Regions from separate parts of the Homo sapiens genome. Here regions 2, 3, 4 and 5 are each linked to region 1. Evidence: fine-mapped expression QTL. A gene starts in region 1. Each other region holds a variant in brackets. All regions are shown on one strand. Distances are from middle to middle.

Evidence for each region. PIP is the estimated chance that this variant, and not a neighbour inherited with it, causes the effect.
Region 2: its variant is the best candidate, but not a certain one, in a credible set for the expression of TRAK1 in regulatory T cells (Schmiedel 2018, PIP 0.81).
Region 3: its variant is the best candidate, but not a certain one, in a credible set for the expression of TRAK1 in CD4 T cells (CEDAR, PIP 0.78).
Region 4: its variant is the best candidate, but not a certain one, in a credible set for the expression of TRAK1 in whole blood (INTERVAL, PIP 0.55).
Region 5: its variant is the best candidate, but not a certain one, in a credible set for the expression of TRAK1 in whole blood (INTERVAL, PIP 0.51).

What each region holds. Positions count from the first base shown.
Region 1 is chr3:42,088,548-42,092,907 of GRCh38, forward strand. It overlaps TRAK1 (trafficking kinesin protein 1), which reads left to right and starts at 2,810. Exons shown (of 16, transcript NM_001042646.3): 1 at 2,810-3,013. The coding sequence starts at 2,923.
Region 2 is chr3:42,210,748-42,214,747 of GRCh38, forward strand. All of the region lies in intron 14 of TRAK1 (trafficking kinesin protein 1), which reads left to right. Among named protein-coding and RNA genes, the nearest start is that of CCK, 53 kb to the right of the region's middle. RefSeq lists enhancers at 2,368-2,869, 3,826-3,935. The variant G/T (reference allele first, on the strand shown) is at 1,851.
Region 3 is chr3:42,200,072-42,204,071 of GRCh38, forward strand. TRAK1 (trafficking kinesin protein 1) reads left to right here. Exons shown (of 16, transcript NM_001042646.3): 12 at 747-983; 13 at 2,365-2,681. Among named protein-coding and RNA genes, the nearest start is that of CCK, 64 kb to the right of the region's middle. The variant TGGAC/T (reference allele first, on the strand shown) is at 1,782.
Region 4 is chr3:42,115,523-42,119,522 of GRCh38, forward strand. The region is part of intron 1 of TRAK1 (trafficking kinesin protein 1); the gene reads left to right. Among named protein-coding and RNA genes, the nearest start is that of TRAK1, 26 kb to the left of the region's middle. RefSeq lists an enhancer at 3,590-3,679. The variant AG/A (reference allele first, on the strand shown) is at 1,695.
Region 5 is chr3:42,143,238-42,147,237 of GRCh38, forward strand. All of the region lies in intron 2 of TRAK1 (trafficking kinesin protein 1), which reads left to right. It also overlaps the pseudogene TPMTP2. Among named protein-coding and RNA genes, the nearest start is that of TRAK1, 54 kb to the left of the region's middle. The variant C/CA (reference allele first, on the strand shown) is at 2,247.

The sequences.
Region 1 (4,360 bases):
TCTCAGTCCCGTGTTTCCCGCAGGCCAGTGTCTCTGCTCTTCTGTTTGCTTACTCTAGTTTTTCTTTTGTTCTCTCTGGAGTCCACTGCAGGCAGGCTCATGCCCCACCACACTGACAGCCTGGTTCAGTCCAGGGGTCTGTCCTCTGCCTTCACCTTACTTCACTTTTCAGTGGTAGTTCACACTGTTGCCAAGTCCTGTGTCCTGGAAGTACAGTCTTTACTTGGCTTCTGGGTCCCCACACTCTCCCTGTTCTTCTGCCTCAGTGGCTGCGTTTCTTCTTCTCCCAAGCCTGGGAACGTTGAAGGGCCCGGGGCCCAGCCTTTCCGCCTCTTTGCTCTTATGTGTGCACCTGTGCAGCACTTGATCTCACCCAGCACACAGGTTTTAAAATCGCCTTCTGTACTGGCCACTCGGTGGTTTCTGTACTCAGCCTGGCCCTTCCTCCTTAAGGCCAGATGTCTCAGACTGACTCCACATGAGTTTCCACTTAGATGTCTAACAGGCATGTCAAACTCAAATGACCAAAAATGAGCTCCTGGTTTCCACCTGCACCTGCTTTTCTTAGGGTTTTCCCCATCCTTGTAAATGGTGCTTTCATTATTCTAGTTGCTCAGGCCAAGAACCTTGGAGGCATTTGTGATTCTGCCTTTCTGCGATTCATACCCCAGTTTGTCAAGAATTCTGTTGGCTGTATCTTCAGAGTATGTTCAGAATCTACCCAGCATTTACTGTGTCCCAGCCACCCCCATCTCACACCTGGATGACCGCACTGGCCTTCCAGTGGGGCCTCTTACTGCTACCCTTGCCTCCCTAAAATTCTTTCTCCGCTCAACCATGAGAGTTGGCTTTTAATACAATCAGATGGTTTAACTCTCCTCCAAACTTCCAGTGAGCTCCCCTTCTATAGAGACCTGTAAGGAAGGGGCTGAATGACAGGAATCCCTCTTTGCCCCGCTGACCTGCCTCCTCTGTGCCCTCCGTGCTCCAGGTACACTGGCCGCCTCACTTAACCTTGAACTCACCAGGCACATCCAGCCTCAGGGTCTTTGGATTGCCTTAACTCCAGATATCCTTATGACCCCCTCTTCCTTCTCCAAGTGACATTTTATTTGATGCTTTTTGTGACCCCCCCCCAATACAGAGTGATCTGCCTCACCTTTCCCCATCTCCCTTTCCTGTTTAATTTTTTCCCCCAAACTTAACCATCTGCTGAACTACTGTATTTGTGTTTTGTCTCCCAAACTTGCAGTAGACTAAAGTCGCGGAGGGCAAACTCTGTGTCTACTTTGCACACTCCTGAATCCAGTGACTAACGTAGTGCCTGCCTGTGGCCAGCGCTCAGTGAACATTTGTTGGGTGTATCAATTGTGTCAATTTGTGCAGTGAGTACTATTATCCTCTTTGTGTAAGTGAAGAGTCTAAATCTCGAAAGGTTCAGCACCTTGGTGAAACTCCTGAGTGGCAGGAGTTGCATCCAGGTCTGTAGGACCCCAGGGCAAGGGTTCTTTGCTGCCTAAGAATTTAGTCTAGTTGGGGAGACAGATGAGTGAGTAGAAATTGGCTGTACACCGAGGTTAGCACAATGATAAGCACAGCACAGTAGGGCACCAAGGAGGGTGCCAGGCTGAACCTTGGAGGGGAAAGGACAGGAGAAGACCACGAGGGCTTTGTGGAGGAGGCGATGACCCAACCGCATCTACATTTGTCCAAACACATGAATTGATCCTTGGGATTCTAGTGGCATCTGTACCAGTGAAATCCAGGAAGCATCCAGCCTGTTAAAGTGCTTTCACTTTCTTTGAATGTGACAGTGGAGGGTAAAGAAATGGCAGAATGTACCGCTGAAACTTCACAGCTGGGCGTGGTGGCTCACGCCTATGATCCCAGCACTTTGGGAGGCCGAGGCGGGCAGATCACCTGAGGTCAGGAGTTCAAGACCAGCCTGGCCAACATGGTGAAACCCCGTCTCTACTAAAAATATAAAAACTAGCCAGGCATGGTGACGGACGCCTGTAATCTCAGCTACTTGGGAGGCTGAGGCAGAATTGCTTGAACCTAGGAGATGGAGGTTGCAGTGAGCTGACACAGTGCTACTGTACTCTAGCCTTGGCGACAGAGTGAGACTCTCTCAAAAAAACAAAACGAAACAGCAACAACAAAAAACACAACAAAGAAGTGGCAGAATGTAGTGCTGAAACTTCAAACCCTATAGGATGTGGTGACTTGGGGGTTCTTTGTTGGGACCAGAGGAAAGCTGAGAAACAGCTCGGTGCTGTTGTGTTTAGCACTGGCTTGGTAAACAGGAGAGTAAACACAGACACTCTTATGCGTTTAAGGGATGGGCTGTCAGGTGATGGAGAACATGCTCGGATTAAAGTTTTATTAGGCAGTCATTGAAAGGAAGACATTAAATGGAAAAAAGTTCTCCGAGAGACCTAGACTATCCCCAAGAATGCATCTGTGGCCTCCCAGGGCTTTGCCAAGTGCAGTCTCAGGACACTGCTTGGCATTCAGCCCTTGATAAATTCACTCCTCCCCCAGTTCCCAGCAAGCCCTGAGATGAACAGCAGACTTTTTGTTCCACTTTAATTTTTAGGCAAAACCGAATGCCCATCACAAAGCCCCGTTCTCCTTGCTACTCCCCTTCCCCCAACCTAGAGGTATCACATTTTTGGGTGCGTCATTTTCTGTTTGGGGTGGCTTAACAAGATGAGCTGATAGGGTTCCCAGGCTGCCTGGAGTTACATAACCCATTGTGCTTCCAGGACAGCTCACAATCTTAGGATTTGCCCTAACAAGCAAACTCAGAAAACTGCTGAGGAAGGCACGGGAGGGTGGCTGTGCGAGGTACTGCCGGGGCTGAGCTCTCATGGAGGCTCTCTCTGTTCTCTGAAGTGCCTTTGGAGTTTATGTCTGCACATGGCATTGGTTTTTCAATTCGGGCAGCCCGTCAGGGCTCAGCCTCTGCCAGGACTCTGCCACGGCAAGCTCATTCGGACAAACGCCTGTGGTAAGTTTGTTTGCCAGGTCTGTCTGCTGTCTGTTTTCTTTGTGGTGTGGTCGGAAAGGAGAAAAGACCACAGGAGAAGCTGTCTCTCTCTTGCTCCGTGCTGCTTGGGAGGTTGTTCATGGTCATGTGGTAGAGAAATTGCCATGTTGAATGATAGGCAGAGCAAAGGGACTTCAGAGACACAACTACTGCCCTCACCACCCCCCCATCTCCCGTTCCCAGGTCCCCTTGTCCCCTTGCCCAGGCTCAGTAGGTGCAAGTGACACTTGCAGGGCATGAGCACAGGGCTGAGTTGAGCCCAGACCCCCTGCACTGCCACTCCCTTTCCCTTCACAGTTCTCTGCAGTGGGTGGACAGGGTTTCTAAGGCCTCCTCCGCCTCTCCAGCTCTGATTTCTCTAATCCTATGTCTTGTCTTTATCCTGATTTCTTAGATGCTAACCTGGTATCTTGGGTCAGCAAGGAGTTTTTCAGAAGGTGAAGGACAGAGTTAGACTGTCTCCCTCCCTCTCTCCCGTTTCCCTCTCTTCCACCCTCCCTTTCTTTTTTGTCCTTTACTAAATGCTTGGGCCTGGGACTCGGATCCACACCCCAGTGATGGAGGGCTTGCTAATCAGATCTGCTGTGGCTTGTGTCTCTTGCTGTGGGGCTGACACCTCTCACTTCCTCTAAGCTGGTCAGAGTCCAGTGGTTGATGACCCATCTGGTTTCTGTCCTGTCTACACGCTGCTTCCTGAGAGCTGTCTGGGCCAGAAAACAGTTAATTCCTGAGAGAAGTGAGCTCCTGTTCCATTCCAGTCAGTTTTAGGCTTTAAAACATGTAAATCTTATTGAATAAGCCTAAAGACACTTCAAACATGCATCTTACTGAGGCAATCGTACTTATTTTTGTGTGTTGAAGCAGCGTGCACCCAGGGCCAGGTTTTTACTGGGGTTTATGTTAATTCCTGGGGTCAGAGAGAGGACTGGTCCTGCCCTCAGAGCACAGAGGTGGGCCAGGGTGTAAAGGAGAAGCTGTAAACCGAGTGAGAATTGCCTAGGAAAAATCTGCTAACAGGAGTAGCCCTGCCTGGGAGGACTCTTCATCAAAGGGCCATGGCTTAGAATTTGTTCCTTTTATTTTGTTGTGTTGTGTTGTGTTGTGTTGTGTTGTGTTATGTTATGTTATGTTATGTTATGTTATGTTATGTTATGTTATGTTATGTTATGTTATTTCGTGACTCACTGTATTGCCCAGGCTGGTTTTGAATTCCTGGGCTCAAGTGATCCCCCTGCCTCGGCCTCCCAAAGTGCTGGGATTACAGGCGTGAGCCACCATGCCTGACCCAGGATCTTTTCCTTTTCTATC
Region 2 (4,000 bases), 120 kb after region 1:
CAATACTCCTTAACCAAATAAACCTTCGGAGAACGTCACTAAGCTTTTCCAGAGAGAAGACCCTAGATGAAGTTGGAAAAGAGCTCTGGCTGACTCCACCCACTGTCCCCAAGCATTAAAGGTGTGGCCATGAGTTTACAGAATTACCCACATTCCAGTTGCCACTGGGATGAAAAGCTTTGTGCTCAGAGCTCTGGGAATCATGGGATCACATGGTTACTGTTTACCCCAACAGCATGCTCTGTCTAGACTGGACCTCCCAGCCCCTTGTGTTGGGAAGGCAAAGCTTTTGTGGAGTCAGGGGGGAGACTGAGAAAAAATGAATTAACCCTGTGTTGTCATCCTCATGACATTCCTGAGGATTCACCAGGTTAGAAGTGAGGACGTTTATCTTTGTGATTCATAATTTTCATTTGTGAAGGCCACAACACTCCCCTTGAAATACAGGGCAGGAAAGAGCTGAGGTTCTTGGTGGTGTCTCCCATTCCCCTGGCTAATTTCAGACAGCTGTGGTCAAGGGATTTTACTTGGGATCAACTTTTCCTTTTTTCCTTGACATTAATTTTAGAGAAGTCATCAAGTCATGTGATTTGTTTAGCACATAGGTTTATTTATGGTTTGATTTTTTTTAGGCAGTTATATTACTAGATTAAGCTTGTGAGGGAATGAAAATGTTTTTTATTTGTTATCTACACACTCGAAAAAGAGAAACCAGCTGCGGTACTGTCCCATTTTTGTCATCAGCACCAGTGTCCGTCAGGAAGGCAGGTGGTGGTGCAGAAACATGATGCCTGGCTGATTTTCGTGGCTAAAGGGGTAGGCCTTATGTTGATTGGGATGCTCCCCTACAGCCTTACAGGTAGAATAGAAGGTGAGTTCTGGAAGTGCAAAGAAGCACCATTAAGTGCATCTTCTAGAAGTTGTACAGAAGGACTAAAGCTTATCAAGTCAACAAAGAACTTACCTTGGAGGATAGAGAGAGAGAAGGGACCAATTATGAGGACTGACATCCTGGCCACTCTCCTTAAAATAAACACTGACATTTTTCTTGCTTGTTCTCTCTGTACTCAAACCTGTGGCAAATTCATCCTAGCAACGTTATTTGACGAGGGGCATGAACATTTATAGTTGAAACTGTAGAAAGGGTCAGGTTGGAGGTGTGTAATAAAAAAGAATTACCTAGGTTGCCAAAGGTAATTTAGGAAGGGTCTGATCATTTAGATGAGAGTTCTTTGGGGCTTATTTTCTGGGTAAGGCTCATCTTTAAAAACTGGCTTCAGAGGGGAGAGGGGAGAACAATGAATTGGCTCTATTTTCTCTATTGGGAATTACAGGACCATTTTGATTCTTAGAATGTAAAAAGCATATCGCTAAGTAAATCATCCTGGAGGTCCCAAGTAGCTCTATGCCTGCAATCATGGAGACACAGGCAGACAGATAAGCTTCATGGGGAAGGCATGGGGCATCCTCTGTCTTGGGATTTGTATCCATGGTGGTCTGGTCCCTGCCTTTTAATCCGTCCTCTACGCTTGGGCTTTTCTGTTACCAAACAGCACTATCCCAGGAACTATTGTCTGCCTGGGAACACTCAGTAGGGAGACACTTTGGAGACAGGAGGTGATGAACCTTTTTATGTGCAGCTGGTATGATAGAAGGAAATTGGGAAAACTTGTATGCTAGGCACTTTTGTCCAGAGCCTGCTGTCCCATGGAGAAAAAGTTTTAAGCACTGAAAAAATTTGATTAATGTATTTAAATGTATTATTTGAAGCATCATTCACTTGTTGATTTTTACAATCCCATGTCTTAAAAAGGATGAATCCATGTTATTGTATTGTAAATAATTTAGAT[G/T]ATTAAAATGGATTGTTTAAAAAGTTTTAGATTATAGTTTTACTTTATTTCAGTGATATGTTTTATGTTTTAATTTATATAGAAAGTATACTTTATCAGAACTAGTTATCATCTTTTTCTGTCAGTACTCTGTATTTTAGGCATTTGTGTGGGGAAGAGCCTGCATGTGGCAAAGGATTAAGAGTTAAAGTCACACAGTTAAATTGGTAGTTGGCTAGTGGATGGGCAGTTCAGTTGAATTATCTTGAATGCTTTGATCCTTAAAGGTGAGAAAGAAGTAGGATTCAAGCCACATGGATAGAGAAAATTGACAGTCAGTTTATTTTAATGCTTTTACTCATCAAGACTGGTTCATATTGAGGGGAGATATCCTCAAAAACTTACACGAATCATGGCATCTTGACATCTTACCTGGCAGTGGCCCTGCAGTAGAACCATGTCCTAATTGGAGCTGAGATTTTTTTTTTTTTTTTTTTTTTGAGACGGAGTCTTGCTCTGTTGCCTAGGCTGGAGGGCAGTGGTGCAATCTCGGCTCACTGCAACTTCCACCTCCCGGTTCAAGTGCTTTTCCTGCCTCAGCCTCCCAAGTAGCTGGGACTATAGGCACACGTCACCATTCCAGCTAATTTTTTGTATTTTTGTAGAGACAGGCTTTCACCCTGTTAACCAGGCTGGTCTCGAATTCCTGGCTTCAAGTGATCTGACCGCCTCGACCTCCCAAAGTGCTGGGATTCCTGGTGTGAGCCACCACATCTGGCCTAGAGCTGAGATCTTAAAGTCAGAATGGAAGACAAAAAACACACTTGGCTAAAATTGCCCTTAAAAAATTCCCTAAATCTCCAGCAACTGGGCCACCAAGGCGAAAGCCAGGAATCAGCTTCTTTCGTTGCCTCCTTGTTTGATACATAGGCCCAAGGTCAGGAGCAGTGACTGAGTGAGGAAAGGGCAGAGAAGGGCTTGTGGTGAGAAGGAGCCAGGCGGAGTCAGGCCAGCTGGGTGTTCCTGCAGCTTTGCCCGGGCGGGGCAGCTAGAGCAAAGCTCAGCCAGCTTGTATCCTGTCCCCTCTTCAGTACACCACAGACCACAGAACTGGGGTTCAGACAGGCTTGTGAGAAGTTGGTTTGGGGGCTTGATGGGTCTGGAAGGAAAAGTCTGGTATGCTCGATTCACAGACCCTTGGGTGCAGGCAAGTTCCTTCCCATTGTCTACACTGAGAGAGTTGATGTGAGTTCCCATGCTGTTGGGAACACTTCGATTCAGCCTGGTTTTATGGCAGTTATGAGGGAGTTTTGTTGTTATGGACAGAGTGGATAGTTGGCTCACACCCACCTGTATTAGGAGATGCTAAGGAAAGCCCTGTGCTCTGCCGTCAGAATATATATTAAGCCAGAGTAAAACAGGCCAACTGCCACCTGCAAGTGGAAAAATGAATGAAGAATGAAAGAATTGACTCCTTCAAAACAAACAGCATAGAGTCAACCCTGCTTAAAATATCCAGAACAAAGCCCACTTGTTGAGCATTTTCTCTCTGGTATCCTCACCTCTGAACACTACAGAGGGCCCCCTGGTGCTCCTAGAGGCACGTGGGTTGCTGAGGAGGTGTCTGAACCTGACACCCTTCTAATGTGGAGGGCCCTTGAGGGAGCACCCTGTGTTGAGAGGAGGAGCTGTGCAACCACACTGCCTAGTGAAGCACAGGTGAAGTGCTCTCTTGTGCTGGCCTTGAACGCACTAGTGGGGAAAGGTCTTGATGCAGCTCAGCCAGGCCAGCTCCCTTCACCTGTTGGTGTCTGCCACAGAAGGAAGGACAAGAGGACAGAGGGTATAGGGACCAGCTTTGTTGGTGTCTGAAGACTACAAAGGGATTTCTGCATTTGCCCTTTGGACGTTTTAATAGCATTCTAAAAATCCCCCTCTCTCTAGAAGATACCCCAGGGGCACTTGAGAGAATTTCTGACCCTCTCTGCACAATGCTGTGAAATTGTTTATCTCTTAAATCACATACTTTTCAGATGAAACAGGGTAGGCAACTTGGTGTAGTGGGAAGAAGAGTCGACTTTTAATTTTGCAGAAACCAAAAATAAGTTGTGCAGAAACCAGAAAAAGATCTTGTGATGTGTGGTTCGAAATCTCTGTGATAGAAACCTCCC
Region 3 (4,000 bases), 110 kb after region 1:
AAGGAACATGTGGACCAGGTTTCATTGTGTTTTCTGTGTACTCAGACTCCATAGACAGAACTTAAATGAGATCCTGGGAGTGGCAAGTGTCCAAGTGAGGTTTGGTATATGTGTGACACCCTCTGCAGCCCAGAAGGAAGTGGCCATTGTAAAAACATGCCTACCCTTTTCTCTTTAAAAGGGAACAAATGAGCATCAAAGTGGTTCTGCTCCTAAAATAACACTTTCCAAAATTAGACAAATCTAGTATTTATCATCTTATTATAGAAGTGAAAGACTAACTTGAAGTCTTCCTTTTTTTATATGAATGTTCAACAAATATCCATTCTACAAGTATTGATTGATTTCTGCTGCGCTGAGCAGTAAACACTGCCCTGCTGCAGCGTTTATTCTAGTGAATATTATGAAAAAAGAAATCTAGGAGACAAAAGTCATACTTAAGTATTTTTATTTGTGGGTTAAGCTTTAGGGATGTGAAACACAATTTCACTCTTGCTGGCATCACCTTTAGGATACAACCATGCGTTCGAGTCCTGGGTTTAGTGGGTGTTGAATCTCTCAAATTTCGCATTGTGAAGGAGGCAGCCAATACCCTAAGAAACAGGTGGCAGGCACAGGATAGCAGGCTGCTGGGGGACTCGTCATAGGCCAGGTGCCCTTTTGGCTCAGTTGATCATTTTTGGAGGGTTAAACTCCAGGGTTGTGCCCGCATTTGCTCACTCACGGATGCCGTGCATTCTCCCTAGTCACCAGAAGCGTGTCTTTGAGACAGTAAGAAACATCAACCAGGTTGTCAAGCAGAGATCTCTGACCCCTTCTCCCATGAACATCCCCGGCTCCAACCAGTCCTCGGCCATGAACTCCCTCCTGTCCAGCTGCGTCAGCACCCCCCGGTCCAGCTTCTACGGCAGCGACATAGGCAACGTCGTCCTCGACAACAAGACCAACAGCATCATTCTGGAAACAGAGGCAGCCGACCTGGGGTGAGCAAGCTGGGAGTTTTCACTTCTCTGTTTTGGGGTGAGGAGTGGTAGTATGGATTGTCTGCAGGCTCAGTAATTATTAAGAGGGAGGTAGATGAGAGTCACCTGAAAAATACAGACCTGGCCGGGCGTGGTGGCTCGCGCCTATAATCCTAGCACTTTCGGAGACCGAGGCGGGAGGATTGCCTGAGCTCAGGAGTTTGAGACCAGCCTGGGCAACATTGCAAAATCCCATGTCTACTAAACATACAAAAAATTAGCTGGGCATGGTGGCATGCACCTGTAATCTCAGCTACTCAGGAGGCTGAGGCAGGAGAATCGCTTGAACCCGGGAGGTGGAGGTTGCAGCAAGCTGATAATTGCACCACTGCACTCCTGTCTGGGTGACAGAGTGAGACTCTGTCTCAAAAAAAAAAAGCGGACCTTACAGTTCTCCAAATCTGTTCTGCTTACCCACTTGAGCCTATGCCTATCCTTGATATGATATTTTAATCAGCTTAAAGATGTATAACAAGATGATACCAGAAAGTCTGCTTTCCTGTGAAATGCTTGGGGGAAGGATTAATGAATATTTTTTTTTTTGTTAATCTTCACGGTAAGGCTACAGAATAGACATTTGTTTTGTGACCGTTTTGTAGCTTGATGTTGGAAAGGCTGAGGAGGACTCAGGCTGTCTGTCTTGTGACCAGAATGTGGTCACAAGGTTCAGAGGGTGGGGTGCAGGGGGGCCAAGGTGCCCAGGACTGGGCTTTCCTCAGGAATGGTCAGTTCCTCTTTGTCCTGAAGCCCTGCAGAACC[TGGAC/T]GGACGGACGGACGGACGGACAGACGGACACACACACACACACACACACACACACACACACACACACACACACACCATTGTCTACTTTGTGCATCCTTTTCCTCTGACTTAATAAAATTGATTCTTCCGGACCAGTTGGAACAGACAGACAGGAAGCTCCTTGATCAGAGCAGGTTTTGTTCAGAGTTGGGGTCTGGGCTCTTTTCCTTCAAGAGAAGAGAGAAACATGCCTTAACCCCATTATCCTTCTGGTAGCCAGGAACAGCAACCTACAGGTTTCTTCCTAAAGGTTCTTCAGGGAGATGTTTACAGGGACTGAATTTACTTAGTCTGTGTGCAGATATTCATCCCACCTTAGTCCTCACCCCACCTCAACCCCACTAAAAAAGACCCCTGGCGGGAGTGGTTCTGGACACGAATTTATTTCCCCCTGTTGCCTAAATGTCAACTGCTTGCCTTGGTTCCCATGGAGAATCCTGTAGCCCCAGGGAACGTCCACCGCTGTGCATTGAGCAGTCGGGCCTCTGTGGCCTTGGAGCCCTGCTGGCATTCCACCCTCACACCCCTTTCTTCTTCCAGAAACGATGAGCGGAGTAAGAAGCCGGGGACGCCGGGCACCCCAGGCTCCCACGACCTGGAGACGGCGCTGAGGCGGCTGTCCCTGCGCCGGGAGAACTACCTCTCGGAGAGGAGGTTCTTTGAGGAGGAGCAAGAGAGGAAGCTCCAGGAGCTGGCGGAGAAGGGCGAGCTGCGCAGCGGCTCCCTCACACCCACTGAGAGCATCATGTCCCTGGGCACGCACTCCCGCTTCTCCGAGTTCACCGGCTTCTCTGGCATGTCCTTCAGCAGCCGCTCCTACCTGCCTGAGAAGCTCCAGATCGTGAAGCCGCTGGAAGGTGATCACGCGGGGCCTCGGCCCCTCTCTGTCCTCCTGGGGGACTCCCTTTGGTCCCTGATCCACCTGCGGAAGGCGGGGCACCTCTGTCACGCCTACTCCTTTTTCTTCCGCGACAGCCACCCGCGCTGCTGGTTTGAGTTCCTCTGAGGGTGGTGCTCAGCCTAGGCCTCCGTCCCTCCCCTCTGGCTGGCAGGTGTGACAATGCACACATAGGCCATGAAACTCGCCGAGGAAAGACAAGCATGTGCACTGTGGTCTTCTAGTTCTTTCCTTTGCCTTTAGAACCTTAGAAATAAAAACTTTTGTGGCGGTAGAGGCACTGCTAACTGATTCAAAAATTAATTAGGTTTTGCCTGTGGGTGTGAGGAATGCAGAAAATTAATGCTTTAGCTTTTCTGCAGTTTTGGTGTCGGGGAGAGGTTCCAAGCAAACTCTATTAAATGGGGATTTTTTTTTCCCCATAACCACCTGAATGTGATTTGTGGGCTTATGTGTTCTGATTTGAACTTCATATAGCAAGGTTGTGGCTTTTGGCAGATGCAGTATGTTCTGAGCGCGGCTCCTAGAGTCTACAATTTGGAGTCCAGGAAGGGGTGGCTGTGGAGACAAGTGAGTTTTGTACCTCCGTAAGCCACCCTTTTTCAGGGTCAGTTCATGTGTTAGTATCAGGGGCATCTCAGATGATTAAACTCATGGGAAAAACTTCCTCCTTCCCTCTCTCCCTCTTGCCCTCCTGCCTCTTTTTTTTTTTTTTTTTTTTTAATTTAGGCACTTATAAAATGTTTTCCCTCTACCTGCTGCTACTCTGCCAAGAGCCACCAAGTGCTTATATTTTTCATTTTTTACTCCTTTAGTTTGGAAAGCCATATACGTTTGAGAAGGTGTTTTAAAACTCTGTGTTACACTTACGATGCAAAGCCAAATCAGAACTTCTGTAAGGCAGAACTTTCCCAACTTTAAAAAAATTATTGTCCCCTCTAAGGAGCCTTCTTAGACGTTTTTTCCTAATCACCCCCCAAAGACATTTTAATACCACATATATATTGTTTATGTACTATATGTATATACATAAACAATACATAAGCAATACATCTGTGGTATTAAAATTAAAAAGAATCCAATTATGTTTACCTCAAAAGAACCTGTTTTTGCTTCTTGGGAGCAATATTGCCCCTGTGAGACTGCATGCTATAAGGTAAGGTTGTGCTTGTTAAAGACCCAAGACATGACTGGGTTCCACAGTCTCCAAAGGAAGAGGGTGGGCTAGTTTGTTTTTATTATTATTTTAAAATTGTATAATTGGGGTCTTTCTTAGAG
Region 4 (4,000 bases), 27 kb after region 1:
GATGGTAACTCGGTACGTGACACCAGGCTATGTGGAACTCAACTGTGTAATTTTGTGTCCGTTTTCTTAGAAAGCGTTTCTTCTGTTGGTAATTAAGGCCATGGAATTCTAGAGAACTCCCCAGTGTTGGTTTTCGTTCCTGTCTCTGAAGCATAGTTAGTCTTTCCTTTCCCATCCTATGAGGGTTTCTCTGCTTGTCCTTCTCTCTTCTGGAGATCCCCTTTGCTGTTCACAGCAAGTGAGCTGTCCCTCAGTGGGGAGAGAGGCAGAAAAGGAAGACTTGGACCTATCCCTTGTCCCTTTGTGGCTGGGGTGTGAGCCAGGGTGGAGTCGGAGGTCTTGCTTCCATTTCTGCCACTGCTTAGCCTTGAGACTTCCCCCATGTCTCTGAACCTTGCAGGGCCACAGTTTCCCCTTCTGTCTTTTAGATCTGGGTCTCCTCATTTATGAAATGTGTTCCCAATCCTCATCCTGCACTGCCTGCTGGCTTGTGAGAGTAAATGAAAGGCAGTAATAGATACAAGTGCTTTGCGTTGTTCAGCAAACATTTATTGAACACTTACTAGTTACCAGGCAGGGTTCCGGGTGCTGGGCAAACAGCGGAAAGCGAATCAGCATCTGGAGGTGCTGTCGCTACATCCCGAGGCCTCTTGCATGGTGGGACCTGCCGCAGGCCAAGCACCCATCTCGAGTCTGCTGCTGGTTTGCTCTGTGACATTTGGCCACCTCCTCAGCTTGAACACAGTGTCCTTTTCCATTCAATGAGGAGGTTGCGCCAGTAGTTTTTAGCTCTAATGTCCTCTTTGTAATTTGTGGAATCACAACTTTTGTGGTATGGAAAGTAATTACTAAGACTGAATCTCTGAAGATGTTCAGCTAAAGCTGTAAACTGCATAGTCCCTTGATAGAGAGGAATTTTCTAGAAGGTTGTCTGTCAGATACCACTTACAAAGTATCACATACATCTCCAGCACCAGTGTGGCCTATGTATGAGTCTTTATTCCTGCCCTTTAATCCTTATAATTTTAAGAAAATGGAATTGTTTCCAAGTCTGTACAGAATGGTTTCCAAGTGGCTGAGTAGGTGAGGAGTGTTGTCTTGTGAAGTCATTAAAACATTGCTGTGGGTTTGCAGTCACTGCCATGGGTAATGTGTCATGAGAGAGGGTTATTGCCTCTAGCCAGAGCGCCTGCCTCCCCAAGCATAGCCAGGGGTCATGCTCTGCACCCACCTCTCTGATGGCCAAGTGGAAAGTTGGTGGGTAAAGAAATGGAGTGGGAGAGGGACAGGGAGGAAAAAAATAAAAAAGATGGACCTCTGTATGGTGGCCACTATTTGATGAGCGAAGGTCCCTTTTCTTGTTCTTTGTCACCTTTAATGTGGTCTGTAGCATTCTCTGAAGTCCCAGAGTGTGGCGCCAGGATGGAAGTCCCAGTGTGCAGACTGGAGGCATGCATGTTTAATCTGGCCCTCAGTATTCAACATTTAGAAATCAGGGACTCTCATAAAAATACAGATCCCTGGTCTCTTGGGTGGAGTCAGCATGTCAAGGACTGGGGGCGTCACCGGGAAGTGCTGTGAGTGGCGGCTGCCCCCCAGACACAGCCCTCAGAATGTGCAACTCTTGCTCTCACCGCTCAGAGAAATTTAGGGTATGAAGAAAGCTTTTCTGCAGCCACTTACCTTTGTTCTAC[AG/A]AGGAAGAAACTGAGTCCCAGGCATATGAACATGTGATTTGCCAGAGTGATAGGACGAAGTTGAGGGGGCAGAACCGAGGCTGGGCGTCCTTTCTCCAAACTCTTGAAACTGTGCTCCTGGCCGGCACCCAGGGCCTCTCGGCTTCCAGCAGGTGGCAGTTGTGGTGCTGGTTTCCTGCCATTGCCTCTTTCTGGCATTCCTTTCCTCCCTCTCCTGTTCTTCTCTCCTCCTTTGCTTTTGCTTGAGCTTTCTCTCACTAGGTTTTTCCTCTTTCTCTCTCCTGTCTTTTATTCTTCCCTCTCCCCTTGCTGTTTTCTCAGATCTCCTGCCAACTGGGTGAGTGTCTAGGGCTACTTTCCTTCTAGACAGCTCTTCTGCACACTCTGCTCACCTTGCAGCTACTCAGGTCCCTGTTCTCCTGGGCTTAGAGCCCTCAAGCTCCAGCGTGCAGGCACGAGGCCCAGAAACCCTGTTGGAATGATCGCACTCCCTCTCTGGAGGTGGCCACCACTCAGAGCATTTAACTCCTCTGTGGAGGAGGAGGTCCCTTGATCCTAGATAGGCTGACTTCTTCTGAGAGTCCACATATCTGTATTTCTTCTTTTCTTTTTTTTTTTTGAGACTGAGTCTAGCTCTGTCATCAGGCTGGAATGCAGTGGCCTGATCTCGGCTCACTGCCCAACCTCTGCCTCCTGGGTTTAAGCGATTCTCCCGCCTCAGCCTCCCGAGTAGCTGGGATTACAGGCACGTGCTGCCACGCCCAGATAATTTTTGTATTTTTAGTAGAGACGGGGTTTCACCATGTTGGCCAAGATGGTCTCGATGTCCTGACCTTGTGATCCGCCCACCTTGGCCTCCCAAAGTGCTGTATTTTTATTGTTTTTAGAGGGAGTTTCACTCTGTCGCCCAGGCTGGAGTGCAGTGCTGCGATCTTGGCTCACTGCAACCTCCACCTCCCGGGTTCAAGCAGTTCTTCCTGCTTCAGCCTCCCAAGTAGCTGGGATTATAGGCGTCCACCATCACGCCCATCTAATTTTTTTTTTTTGTATTTTTAGTAGAAACGGAGTTTCACCATGTTGGCCAGGCTGGTTTTGAACTCCTGACCTCAAGTGATCTGCCCGCCTCGGCCTCCCAAAGTGCTGGGATTATAGGTGTGAGCCACTGCGCCCCGCTGAGATCTGTATTTACATGAGGTTCTCTGAGTGTTAAATGTTGGACACTAATTTAGAGCTATTGCCTTTGCTGTAAAATGTAAGCATTGCCTCAGGCACCTGGCAGGTTTTGTGAAGCTGGCATGTCACCTGAGAATCAGTGCAAATCCCTAGACGGAGGAGTCTCCTCCTAGCCGCTCTCTGCAGGTGAGGATCTAGCCCCAGTCAGGTGGAGAATGGACACAGCTGCTTCTGCAGCTCTGCACCTTCCAGGTGCCAAGCAGGCTCCAGCACACTTTCTTCACTCCCTGGTGGCCCTAACTGAAGCCCACATCCTGGGTAGGAGGGTCCATTCCAAATCTTACGCCTTGGGAAAAACCTAGGAAGGGTTATACCTCTGAAGAGGTAAAGAGTCCTTTTAGGTTATTTTACTTTCAAAGTGATGTCATAAGAATGGTAGGTATTGGATTGACATCTGCTGAGCAATTGAGGGGACATTTACCATCCCATGGGACTTTCCTCTATGCTGGATAAAGACCTAGGGTGATACTGAGGTGGGTTTGAAAAGACCTTGACACTAGATGGCTCCACCTGCCTCATGTTGCAGGCTGGGCATGTGTCTGTCCTGGACAGGCAGGGGATTCACAGACTAGTCCTGCCACCGGCTGCTGCTCTCTCCTTCCCTTGTTCCATCACTCTTCTCACACTTACTGTTGCCTGGCAAAGTAGTAAGGGCTGGGCTGAAGGTAAGGTGGATAATTCAAAGCCTTTTCTCTTGAGGGGCTCACAATTAGTAGGGAAGAGCCACAGAGAATACACTTCTAACATCGTAGTGAAGTCATTTATGTACTGAGAACTGTGGAAGCCAGAGAAGAGAGGTTAAGGGAGGCTTTGCAATAGAGAGTGACATTTGAATGATATTTTAAGATGGAGTTTGCTAGGCAGTGAAGGGCATTCTAGGGAGCTAAAACAGCTGGTCTAAAAACTCAGATTTGTGAAAAAAATGTGTTTGGAAAATGGTGAGAAGTTGGTATGCCTTAAGTGAAGGGAAATTGGAGAAAATAGCAGAGGCTGGGCTTGATAAGAAAGGCTGTTAGGGTGTTGAGTTAGCTGCTTTAACAGAGACCAAAGTAATTGGAACTGTAGCCTCAAT
Region 5 (4,000 bases), 55 kb after region 1:
AAAAACTTCTCAATTTGTTTTCTCTGTGAGGTGCTAACTTGAATCTTTATCTTCTTTAATTGTACCTCTTCTTTTTTTTTTTTTTCTTTCAAATTCCATTAGCAAATAATCCTTGGATGCTTTTTCATTCACTTATTGAGAAGTGGAAAAGGCTTAGGACGGGGATCATTCCTGGTTTATATCCAGATGCTTTTGGTATTCTCTGTGCAATCCTGGGCAAGTGACTTAAGCCACTAAGACCCCTTTCCTTGTCTCCACAATGAGGGAGCCATTAGGTCGCAGGGGTCTGAGGAGTAAGTGAGATATAAAGTATTAAATGCCAGGTATACAGTCAGCACTTTCTAAATGGGGCAGCCGAAGATGCGGTGACTAAGGAATGGCTGACCAGTGGCTGTGAGGCTTACCCGAGACGGCTCCTGGGACCTGTTTTTATTCCTGACTTTCTAGTGGCAGTGATGGAGGAGTGTCAGGTCATGGTAGGGAGGAGGCTGCTTTTTCGGCTGCAGTAAACCTGGGCCGAGGGAGGGCTGTAACCCTCAGGAGTGTTGGGACTCTTGGTGTGAAGGAAAGTGGATTTGATGTCAGATAGACTTGGATTTTAATTGTGAAACTCTTCACAGAGCTATGGACAGATTACTTTGTCTTTCCAAGCATATGAAATACTTTTGGTGTAGTTCACTTTGAAATTGCTTGAAGCTCGTAAAAATCACCCCTAAATGATGCTGTTTCCTTTGTGCTTATTTATACATTGTTTTGTTTCTTTCCTATTTTCTTAAAAAGTGAATTGGATATGTGCAGCTTTGGACTTAATTCAAGCTGTGCTCAATAATGTGTTGTCACTGTTTAGAAATGGTGCCTCGCTCCCTACCTCACCCCACCTGTCACTCCTGCTCATTACTGTGAACTCAGTGCCTTTGAATCAGTTATGTTGGAAAAAGCTTATAAATGGCATTTCTACCTCATTTCCCTAATTGTAGCTTAGGAATTTGTACCCCCTTTTTAATTGTTCATTTCCTGGCTTATTTCCCTTAAAAAAAAAAAGAAAGATTAGAGTGATGAAGATGATCACAACTAACATTTATTGCAAACTCTCTTTGTCCCAGGCACTGTGCTAAGTGCTCTGCCATACACTAATTGATTATAGCTTCCCCTGTCTCTGTGGAATGTATTATAATCACCCCCATTTAGCAGATGAGACTGATGTTATCTAATAAGGTCACAGACATGGAAAACAAAGAGCCTGTACCAAACCTCAGACCATCTGACTCCAAAAGCCCATGCTCTTAACTATGAAATCTGTTATTTTTTACTTGTTTTATGGTAATGGGGTAGGAATAAAATGTTAAAAAAATTCATAGTGCTGTAAGGTAAATGTGCCAAGTATTATTTAAGGGGTTTCTATCAAAACAAAAAAGCAAGCAAATAAGGGATTTGTATCCTTGTATATTTTTTTTTAACTTTAACAAAATTTATTCTTATAATTTGAGAATATATTGTTCCATATAAATTGTATTATTTCATTAAAATGTATTTGTTTCTTGTTTCTGTTACATATAAAATTGTACTGGAGAAAACATTTGCAAAGAGATGGCTAGGATTTCAGTAAAAGACAAAGGTTTATAGTGAAAGCTAATCTTTTATATAGCTCTTGGGATTAGTTGAACCCTGCTGAAGTATTACATTTCTTCAATTATTCTAAATTTCATAGAATGTCAGTTTTTCTATGTCTATTATATTTAAGTAATATTCATTGCATTGTTCTTTTATTTTTTAATTATACAAGTAATACATGCGGATTGATTGGTAAAAAGTCTTGCAGTCTGTAAGCAAGACACACAGTCATAATCTTCCACCTCCTCGCCTCCCCAAAGGAGCTACTTTAACATTTTAGTATCTATTTTCTTCTAAAAAGATATATGCAGTTTTGAAAATTGAACAACTGCCTAATTAAGAATGGGCAAAGGGAGCCAACCGTGGTGGCCCACGCCTGTAATTCCAGCACTTCGGGAGGCCAAGGTGGGCAGATCACTTGAGGTCAGGAGTTTGAGACCAGCCTGGCCAACATGGTGAGACCCCATCTCTACTAAAAATACAAAAAATTAGCTGGGTGTGGTGGCACACACCTTTAATCCCAGCTACTTGGGAGGCCGAGGCATGAGAATCCCTTGAACCTAAGGTCAGAGGTTGCAGTGAGCCAAGATTGTGCCACTGCACTCCAGCTTGGACAACAGAGTGAGACTCTGTCT[C/CA]AAAAAAAAAAAAAAAACCTATGTGCGTTTTTGAACAAAGATCTTTGATATGATTTGTAAACAATAAAAAATTTATGCATTACATTTTCATGCCTTAGCATAATTTTCAATTGCTGAAACTCAAAAACATGTTGATGTTACTTGATTTTGTTTACATCTGATTTACTTTTCTGTAAGTAGATATAACTTTTCAAAAATGTAGTCAATTTGCCAACTTTCATGTTGTTCTTCAAAACCATCAATCATCTCAAGACAATGAATATTGCATATTGTACTGAACAACCTTTCAATTTCAGCATGTGGAACATAAGCTAGTGGGCCTGCATGTTTAGTTGGGTCATAAGAAAGAACACACTCGAGGTACTGAAACCCTTTTCCCAGTAGGGACAACATTGTATCTGCATAGTGTTTGAAATCTCCTAGATTAATGGCAGCCAGTGCTCCTCTATCCCAAATTCTGTCAAATTTGTCGATATGTGTTTGGGGAAGATAATAAATGCTGCAACAGTACAATGAAATGTTCTCTGAAGAACTCTTAAATACTTTGGCTTCAGGAACTTTGCTAATTGGTTCTTCTGAGTAAGAAAGATTCTGCTCTGTAAAAAATTCTTGTATCCCAAGTGCACTGATTTATACACCAACTACATTGTGTCCTTGGTCTGCAAACCATTTCATCTCAACAAGGAGGAAAAAATACCTTCAGTCTACTCTCACCTTTAAGAAAAGTATCCAAATGCGTCTTCAATAGCTGATGTCCTTGTTCTTGATGAAAAGCAATATTGCCGTTCACCCACTTGTCTTGCCATTCTTCCAGAGTTCGTACTTGGTTTTCCTGACCTCAGTATTGGGATACTTTTCCATATCAAATGAAGCTCTTGTATCATCCATAGTTTCATAGACACCATTGTCTCATAAATGTATGTTTTTTAATGCCTTTACTGGTTTATTACAAAGGATACTGTGAAGGATACAGATGAAGAGGCTCCAGGAACCTCCATGTGTTCAGCTATTAGGAAGTTTGTCTGACTTTCATGTGATGCTTTGAGGAGTTTGCATTTCCTGTTCCTTTATTTTATTTTTTTAGTTTTTGGGGTAAGGTCTCACTCTGTCACCCAGGCTGCAGTGCAGTGGCATGATCACATCTCACTGCAACTTTGAAGTCCTGGGCTCAGGTGATCCTCCAGCTTCAGCCTCCCAAGTAGCTGGGTCTACAGGCATGTGCTACCACGTCTAGCTGGTTTTAAAATTTTTTTGTAGAGATGAGATTTGGCCATGTTGTCCAGGTTGTTCTTGAACTCCTGGCCTCAAACTATCCTTCCTTCTTGGCCTCCCAAAGTGGTAGAAGTACAGGCATGAGCCAATGCAACCAGCCCTCTGGTTCCTTTATTAAATCATTTTGCAAATTCTTGTTGGACCTTCCCCACCCTAATTGGATTGAACTGGCGAACATTGCTGATTTTTTAGGAGTTTGTTGTTAACTATTTGCCTGTTTATAAGGCCCATCATCATCTTTTTAGAAATACCTTAAGGTATCTCAGAAAACCTCGGGACACCGGACTCCATTCACCTGTCTTGAGGTGAACATCTGAGGGGCTGTTTGGGAGCTTGCAGTGGGGCTCTTGAGAGGCACCATCATGGCCAGAGATAGGACAATATTAAAGACTAGAGGGAGAGATGAGATGTGTCAGATAGCAGGGGCAGTTATAAGAAAGGAATTAAAATCATTTCTGCTGACTTTAAATAGTCACAAGTCC